Homo sapiens: one gene and its partner. The protein of the gene in region 2 purifies or fractionates together with the protein of the main gene of each other region. This does not show direct contact. Each region holds a gene or a part of one and is shown on either strand. Other genes may lie near its edges.

Evidence for each region.
Region 1: the proteins of KIF12 (region 2) and CLPX purify together in Homo sapiens (affinity purification with mass spectrometry, with the first as the bait; one large-scale study listed by BioGRID). This does not show direct contact.

Annotation. Positions count from the first base shown.
Region 1 is NC_000015.10:65,164,732-65,168,538, forward strand, and holds part of CLPX (ATP-dependent clpX-like chaperone, mitochondrial precursor), read right to left. Parts: intron 2,055-3,807; coding exon 1,900-2,054; intron 1-1,899. UniProt on the Homo sapiens protein: ATP-dependent chaperone that functions as an unfoldase.
Region 2 is NC_000009.12:114,096,246-114,100,852, forward strand, and holds the start of KIF12 (kinesin-like protein KIF12), read right to left. Parts: upstream 3,048-4,607; 5' UTR 3,032-3,047; coding exon 3,006-3,031; exon of another isoform or gene 2,925-3,005; coding exon 2,859-2,924; exon of another isoform or gene 2,769-2,858; coding exon 2,690-2,768; intron 2,217-2,689; exon of another isoform or gene 2,185-2,216; coding exon 2,057-2,184; intron 1,946-2,056; coding exon 1,870-1,945; intron 1,497-1,869; coding exon 1,362-1,496; intron 1,192-1,361; coding exon 1,056-1,191; intron 234-1,055; coding exon 142-233; intron 1-141.

The DNA of each region.
Region 1 (3,807 bases), on a different chromosome or scaffold from region 2:
TCTGAGACTCTAAAAACTGTATTCTTATTTTTTTTTATTTTCTAAAAATATATTTTTTTCTTTTTTTGATACAGGGTCTCACTGTGTCGCCAAGGCTGGTCTTGAACTCCTGGGGCTCAAGCAATCTTCCTGCCTTGGCTTCCCAAAGTGCTGGGATTACAGGCATGAGCCACCAAGCTCAGCCCTAAAAACTTTATTCTTAATAGTAGCTAAAGCTCTATTCTACAGTTGGTTATTGCCAACAGCTTGGAACCTGGGGTAAATTTTTTAAGTTTTTAGTGAATAGAAATGAAATGGTTGGTGAATTAATATTAACCAACTCCTGCCGGGCTTGGTGGCTCACGGCTGTAATCCCTGCACTTTGGGAGGCTGAGGCGGATGGATCACTTGAGCCCAGGAGGTGCAGACCAGCCTGGACAACATGGCAAAACCCTGTCTCTACAGAAATTAGCTGGGCATAGTGGTAGACACCTGCAGTCCCAGCTACTGTGGAGGCTGAAGTGGGAGGATCACTTGAGCCCAGGGAGGTTAAGGCTGCAGTGAACCATGAGTGTGCCACTGCACTCCAGCCTGGGCAACAGAGTGAAACCCTGATTAAAAAATAAATAATTCAAAAACTCCTGAAATTAGTTAAACTGCCTGGATTTTTTTTTTTTTTTTTTTTTTTTTTGAGACGGAGTCTCGCTCTTTCACCCAGGCTGGAGTGCAGTGGCGTGATCTTGGCTCACTGCAAGCTCCGCCTCCCGGGTTCACGCCATTCTCCTGCCTCAGCCTCCCGAGTAGCCAGGACTAAAGGCACCCGCCACCACGCCGGGCTAATTTTTTGTATTTTTTTAGTAGAGACGGGGTTTCACCATGTTAGCCAGGATGGTCTCGATCTCCTGACCTCATGATCCGCCCGCCTCGGCCTCCCAAAGTGCTGGGATTACAGGAGTGAACCAAACCACCGCACCCGGCCAAACTGCCTGGAATTTTAACTCACATGTCTAAAGTCTACACAAATTCGTATAGAATATAAAGCCCAATATATTTTCCATTTTTAATGACAAATTCTTTAGTTGTTGACCATATACATTTTATTATAGTTTTAAACATCTTTATTCCTTACAAATTATACCAATGACATTAAATCTGTCACAGCACATTTGGAAGTAGAGACAAATGCACTGATATCTAAACACAGTAGAAGAAAGATACACTGAGGCAGTGAGAAATAATCTAAGTGTGCAAACATCTGAGACACAGCCAGAACAGAAGGCACATAGCCAGGGTACAAGGGTTCCCAGTTCTCAAAAAGCACACACCAAATACCCAATGGAGCTGGTGGTACATTCTGTTACATCTCACAGGACCAAATCATACTCTGCCTGAGACTTCTAAAGAGTCCACACTACCAAAGCCACAGTGCTATACGGAGCAGCCCGGCACACTGGCTATGAAAAAACTACTTACTTACATTATTAGACTGAAGGCTGTTTTACCATAAAATAGACCAATTTAAGGGAGATAATTGCAGGCTTTTTTTTTTAAGGCTAGTCAAGTGGACCAGCCTAGGCTGGTGTTATTTAAGGGTCCATATGAACAAAAATAAATCAGAAGTTGCTTGCTCTATTGTAGATATTATTTCAGATTAACTTGGTATTAACAAGTTAACATTTTAATAATTATCTAGCTATATTTCACTGCCACTGAATACAGTAATCATAACATGGGAAAAAGCAACAGACCCCATATTTAAATTCCAAAAGGCAATAACAATTTAGCCACATATGGTCCATATTATGAACCTATAATACTTGTTTATATACTAGTATTAGGATTCAGTGTAAACTTGGGAGAGGGAAGCAATGGAATGTTTTCAAGATAAAATACTTGTAAGACTGAGCTTAAGACTTATACCTTCTTAGGGGGAGGTGGTGGTTTCTGTTGGAATGCCAATTTTACAGCTTCTGCTGCTGATTCAGGTTCTTTAATTATGCTTTTCTTTGAGTCTGCTTCAGATAGCACAACAAAAAAATGATGACACTTTTCACACTTGACAAAACGGGTGGATGCTGTAAAAGAAAACAGACATAAGTAGAGGGAAATAAAAAATAATTCCAATAGTGTTTAACCTTAAAGACTCCACTGTAAATGAAAGCTACGCACCTGACAAAAAGTAGACTTGCTGTTCAATCTACTTGCCACACAAACAGCCTCATTTATATAGCAAGTATACTACAAAGATAGATCAGTCAACTACCTTTTGCTCATTTCTATTAGGTCCTTTCATTTTGTGATATACTTCTTTAAAAGAAAAGATTGCGTGAAATTTTTCCAACTTTCCATTCACTAAAAAAGATTTTTTTTTTTCTTTGGGAGACGGAGTCTCGCTCTGTTGCCAGGCTGGAGTGCAGTGGTGTGATCTCGGCTCACTGCAACCTCTGCCTCCTGGGTTCAAGCAATTCTCCTGCCTCAGTCTCCTGAGTAGCTGGGATTACAGGGGTGCACCACCATGCCCAGCTAATTTTTGTATTTTTAGAAGAGACAGGATTTCACTATATTGGGCAGGATGGTCTTGATCTCTTCACCTTGTTATCTGCCCGTCTCCGCCTCCCAAAGTGCTGGGATTTACAGGCGTGAGCCACCGCACCCGGCCCACTAAAAAAGATTTAAAACCTCTTTGAGAATATGGAGTAATCATCTATTTTATTGAAATACTTGAATGAACAAACTAAAAAAGTAAAATACAAGATTCATATATTTTTCCAATATTATAAAAAATGTCAAACATATACAAAAGTTGAAAGAGATAAATCTATTTTAATTCCTAAAAATGTAAAAAATGTATATTCTTTACATTCTCTTAAACCCATGAGCATTTTTCGGGCGTGTTGGCTCATGCCTGTAATCCCAGCACTTTGGGAGACTGAGGCAGGTGGATCACCTGAGGTCAGGAGTTAGAAACCAGCCTGGCCAACATGATGAAACCCCGTCTCTACTAAAAAAAAAAAAAAAAATACAAAAATTAGCTGGGCGTGGTGGCAGACACCTGTAATCCCAGCTACTCGGGAGGCTGAGGCAGGAGAATCGCTTGAACCCAGGAGGTGGAGGTTGCAGTGAGCTGAGATTGCGCCATTGCACTCCAGCCTGGGAGATAGAGCAAGACTCCATCTCAGAAAAAAATATATATATAATTATTTCATATCTTTCTTATTTTATCTTTACTCCACTAGTTCCTATTTCTCTGATCAAAAAACCACTAAGAAACTAACAAAATACTGCTTTCTCAGTCATACTGATTGGATTTAAAGATAATCATGCAGACTTTGAAAGCAATACAAAGGTAGTTTAAAGTGAGGATAAAAAGAGTCTCTTTTTTCTTTTAAAAATTTTTGGCCAGGCATGGTGGCTCAGGCCTGTAATCCCAGCACTTTGGGAGGCCGAGGGGGACAGATCACGAGGTCAGGAGATCGAGACCTGGCTAACACGGTAAAACCCTGTCTCTACTAAAAATAGAAAAATTAGCTGGGTGTGGTGGTGGGCGCCTGTAGTCCCAGCTGCTCGGGAGGCTGAGGCAGGAGAATGGTATGAACCCGGGAGGTGGAGCTTGCAGTGAGATGAGATTGCACCACTGCACTCCAGCCTGGGCGACAAAGTGAGACTCTGTCTCAAAAAAAAAAAAAAAAAAAAAAAAAAATTTGTGGATACACAGTGATGAGTTCATGTCCTTTGTAGGGACATGGATGAAGCTAGAAACCATCATTCTGAGCAAACTATCGCAAGGACAGAAAACCAAACACCGCATGTTCTCACTCATAGATGGGA
Region 2 (4,607 bases):
GTCCCCATCAAAGCCACAAGGTTATGGGACCAAGAGTTTCCATTATTAACCCCCATGCACACCCAAGTTGGTTTATATGTCCAGATACAGACCCTTGCTTGGTGGCCCCGGGTAAGCACCTTCCCAGGCTGGAGCACTCACAGTTTGACGGCTGATGTAAAGGGTGAGCAGGGCATGGCTTCGGCTGGAGGCCTGGTTCAGGGTGTGGGCTGAGTTCCTTCGACGGCTGAGACCTGGAAGGGAAAAACATCAGGAGCTGGACCTGGTAGGAAGAACAGGTCATCATCAATGAAGAAAAAGGAGCAAAGGAATCCTGGCGGAAGGGTCAGCCTCATGCAAAGGCAGGGAGGCAACAGAGTGGGTGTTGTTCAGGGAACGATGGGATGTTGGGCCCTGCTCTAGCAGAGATGGGTGGATGGAGGATAGAGAAAACTGAGCAGAAGAATGACAGTCAGATTTGCATTTTATAAACATCTCTCCCACTGCTTCGTGAAAGGAAGGGGAGAAACTGAGGCAGGAGATCAGCTGAGAGGTGTGGCACAGTGCTGGGGCCAGAATCCACAGTCAGCATCTCCAGTGCCTGCCAAAGGAGGGGTGCCCAATAAATACTTGATTTAAAAAAAAGAATGAGGCTGAAAGGGCCTTTAGGCTAGGCTAAGAGGTATGACCTTGATCCTCAGGGCCCTGGAAGGGTGGAGGGTCTGGAGGCAAAGAGAGATGGGGTTTGCAGCATAGAGGAGAATGGATGGGCAGGGGAGAGCCTTGAGGTGCAGAGACCACCAGGGAGCAAGAATGAGTCCTGGCGGAGGCCGAGGCCCTGGGCTAGAGAGGAGAGGGTGTGAAAGGAGTTTGGAAGGCAGAATTAGCAGGCCTTGTTGGCAGTGCGGGGAGGCCCTTGGGCCATGCCTTTGAATTGTGGTTTACTGGTCCTTCCCCACCTCCCCCAGGAATCATTTCTGAAGCTGCAGCTGCAGTCTGGGCCCCAAGTCCACACTCAGTGAACAACTGAGGAATGGGCACCCCTACCCGCAAAACTCCCCGCTGTCAGCACACACCCGTTTGCAAAAGTTCCATCAGGGCCTCCAGACTCCCAAATTCCACCACCCGCAGCTGCTCCACATAGAAGCCCCGAGTCTTGTTCCAGCGAACAGGGAGGGGCCGGGGAGACCCCAGGCTCAGCAAGTCCCGAACCTGGGAGGGGAGGGAGGAGGGTGAGGGAAGGGGATCTTTCTGAGTCCACCCATCCCCAGATCTTACTGACAACAGTCCCCACCGCCTCTTCTGTCCTTTGATCCAGGCTCCCTGGAAAGAAGCGCTCCGTTTCCTCATGGGCTGTCTTTCTATTCCTCTCATTCCCTTACCTGCTCATTGTAGATCTCCAGATAAGAGGCGCGAAGGGTGACAGGGGCACCCAGGTGCTGCACGCGGTCCAACAGCCAGGCGAAGGTCCTCTGCATGATGCCAGCCAGGCTGGGGGGTACAGGCACCCCCTCCCCCTAGGGGCAAAACCAGCTGAGCCATCGTCATCTCCACAGTAATAACTACCCTCTGTAGCGCATGTATGATACCGTGCGCCGGGAAACGTGCCAAGTTCCCAAACAATGGCTCATTTAATTCATAGTCGGTACTGTCACTTCCATTTTACAGATGAGAAAACTGAGAGCTAGGAAGGGGCCAAAGTTGAAGCCCAAATGCTCCAAATTGGGCAAGTCCCTTCTCTTTGGTCCTCAGCGTCCTCGTCTGCAAACAAGCGGGTCAGGCGGCGTCGTCCCAGCCCCTTCCCTCTGGGAGTCTGCGCCGCCTGCGGCTCCCCAGGGCTTCCAGCCCACCCAGCCCCGCCCCGCGGGGGCGCCGCCGGCGCTCGCTCACCTGGGGAGGGGGTCCAGTCAGGGTGTAGGTCTTCCCAGAGCCCGTCTGGCCAAAGGTGAAAACAGTGCAGGAGAAACTGCGGGCGGCAAGGGCGTGGCTGGACTCCGGCGGCTACCCGGGGTGGGGGCTGGGGGTGCTTCGGGGCCCCGCCAGGCCCGGCGCGGAGCGGAGGCGAAGCTTCACTCACCCGCGCAGCGCCAGCTCCCCCAGGCGCCGCACGCCGCACGCCCGGAACACGTCCTCCTGCGTGCGCGCCGCGTCTAGCACCGCACCGAAGCGGAACGCCACTTCTGGACCCCCGCCTGGAGGACTCACCTGGCGCGGGTGGGGCGGAGGAGCGGGGCACTCTGGAGGAGGGCGGGGCACCCTGGAGGGGCGGGGCACCGTGGAGGAGGGCGGGGCACGCGGGAGGAGGGCGGGGCACTCTGGAGGAGGGCGGGGCACCCTGGAGAAGGGTAGGGCGCTCGGTGAGGCACTCGGTGGGCGAGCACCCTGGGTTGGGGGTGGGGTGGGGGACACTCACTAGGGCCGGGGCATTCTGGGGAGGGTAGGACACCCTGGAGGGGCGGGGCATTCTGGGGGGGGCGGGCACCTTGGGTGGGCGGGCACTCAGAAGGGGCGGGGCACTCGCAGGGGTTGGCGCGGCGCACCCTGGCGGAGGGCTGGGCATCCTGGAAGGGAGGGGCACTCTGGGGAGGGCGGGGCACCTGGGAGAGGACCACTCCGGGGGAGCGCGGGGCCTAGGGCAAAGTTGCCTGGGGGAAGGGATCTGGCGTCCCCGGGATTTTTTATTGGGGAGATAGAGAGAGGGGTTCCTCACCTGCAGAGTCCGGGTCCCTGAGCAGTGCAGCACGCTCTGCTGCCCTCGACGCAGCTCGGCCGCGCTCATGGGACGTACCCTGGGGTCCGACAGAAGGGCAGATGGTACATCCTGATGTCTTCCTCGATCCTTGTCTCGCCCAGGTGCCTCCTAGCCAATTTATACCCACCTGAGCACCACCTGGATGGGCGTTTCCGGCCCCTCTGGCCCTTGCTCCAGGCTCCGCGCGAGATCCCTGTGGGCAGCAATGCGACTTATCATACCTGCACCTAGCGGCTGTTCAGGACTCCTCGAACCTGTCTGAAGATCTGCTTACCCGTCGGGTGACCCGCGTTCTTCCATGTCCTGCTCTGCACACGGAGTTAGCTCCGCCCGCGTCTCCTTTATTTACCCCCCACCAATACCCTCCCTTCTCCACAACACTGGGACTGTCTACACACATCTTGCATTCCCACCCCATCCCCCATCCCAGGCAGCCATCCATCCGGAAAGACTCCAGCTGCCCAGGGCTAGCTCGTTAAAGATTTACCCTTCCTCACCCCTGCGGTGGAGAAAGTCTCTCCCAAGCTAGGGGACCCCTAGCTAGGGGGTTCTGGAGTCTGAGGATCCCTTGCTCTTGGCCAGTCCTCACAAGAGGAACCCGTGGGACCACCCAGACCGGCCTCCTTTGTGCCCAGTTGGGGATACCTAAGCAGATAGGAAGGACTCAACCAAGGCCACAGAGCTAGCCTGCACAGGACCAAGCTTTTCCCACCCTCTCCACATACCCCCCACTCCCACCCCCAGCAGCTCAGCTCAGGGCCCAAGGAGTGGCACAGGTCTCAGTCAGCTCTAGGGACGACCTGGCTGGATTGAATCTCTGAGCTGACCTGAGAACAGGTTTCCAAGCATCTGGTAAAACACTGGGGCACCTGCCTCTCTAATGCCAAAGTTAATCCTAGGCCAGCATGATTGTTTAACCCTCTCCTGGTCTGGCTTATGAGAACAGCAGAGATGTCTGTGAATGTGCAGGGATGGGGCAATCACTTATTCTGTACCAGTCTCCATGCTGGGCACCAGGGCAGAGGAACCCCATGCAGCCCCTGACCCTTCCCAGCTCACAGTGTGTCTGGGGAGATGGATAAGTACAACCCAGCAGCGTGTAGGGCCTTTAGGGGGAGTACAGAGGCCTGTAGGAGCCAGTGGGGGTGGGGAGGAGGTGAGGGTATTCCAGGCAAAGCAAACAGGAGTCAGGATGGCCAGGGTGGGGTGGGGAGATGAGTGTGGCATGGAGAGGTAGTTTGAGGCTGGATCTAGCTTATGGTGGGCACATCAAGGAGTCTGGACTCACTCTTCAGGGAACCAGGAAGCCATTGAAGGGTTATAAACAGGGATGTGACACCATCAGGTTGGCATTGTTATTATTATTGTCATTCTGGCTGTCTTTGTATGTTCTCTGAATATTTCTGCAAACTCTCCGGCCCCCAAACACACATTAGGGTGAAAGCCCTAAAAATCACTTTTTCTCAATGTGACACATTCTATACCACCACAAATTACAGCCAACTATCAAAGCCACCCTGCTGGAGAATGGGCTGTCTTGGATGGCAGTGAGCTCCCCAGGCAATGGAGATGTATAAGAAAGAGCCATTTGACCTTTTGGTTATAGGACCCTCTAGCAGGGGCCACAGGGAAAGTTCTGTAGAACTAATAACCACTGCCCCCAGCTCTGCCACTAACTTGCCACAGTCTTGGCTTCTCTTGTTTCCTTCCTGTAAAAAGAGATTAATGACTTCTCTCCTATTTGACATAGTTGTTCTGAGATTTCAATGAGATGTGTCATTGAAAGTGAAAGTTGTAAATAATTACCTAAAAACAAAAATAAAAATTCCTAGATGATCTCTAAGTTCCCTTTCAACTCTGAAGTTCCTTAATCTAT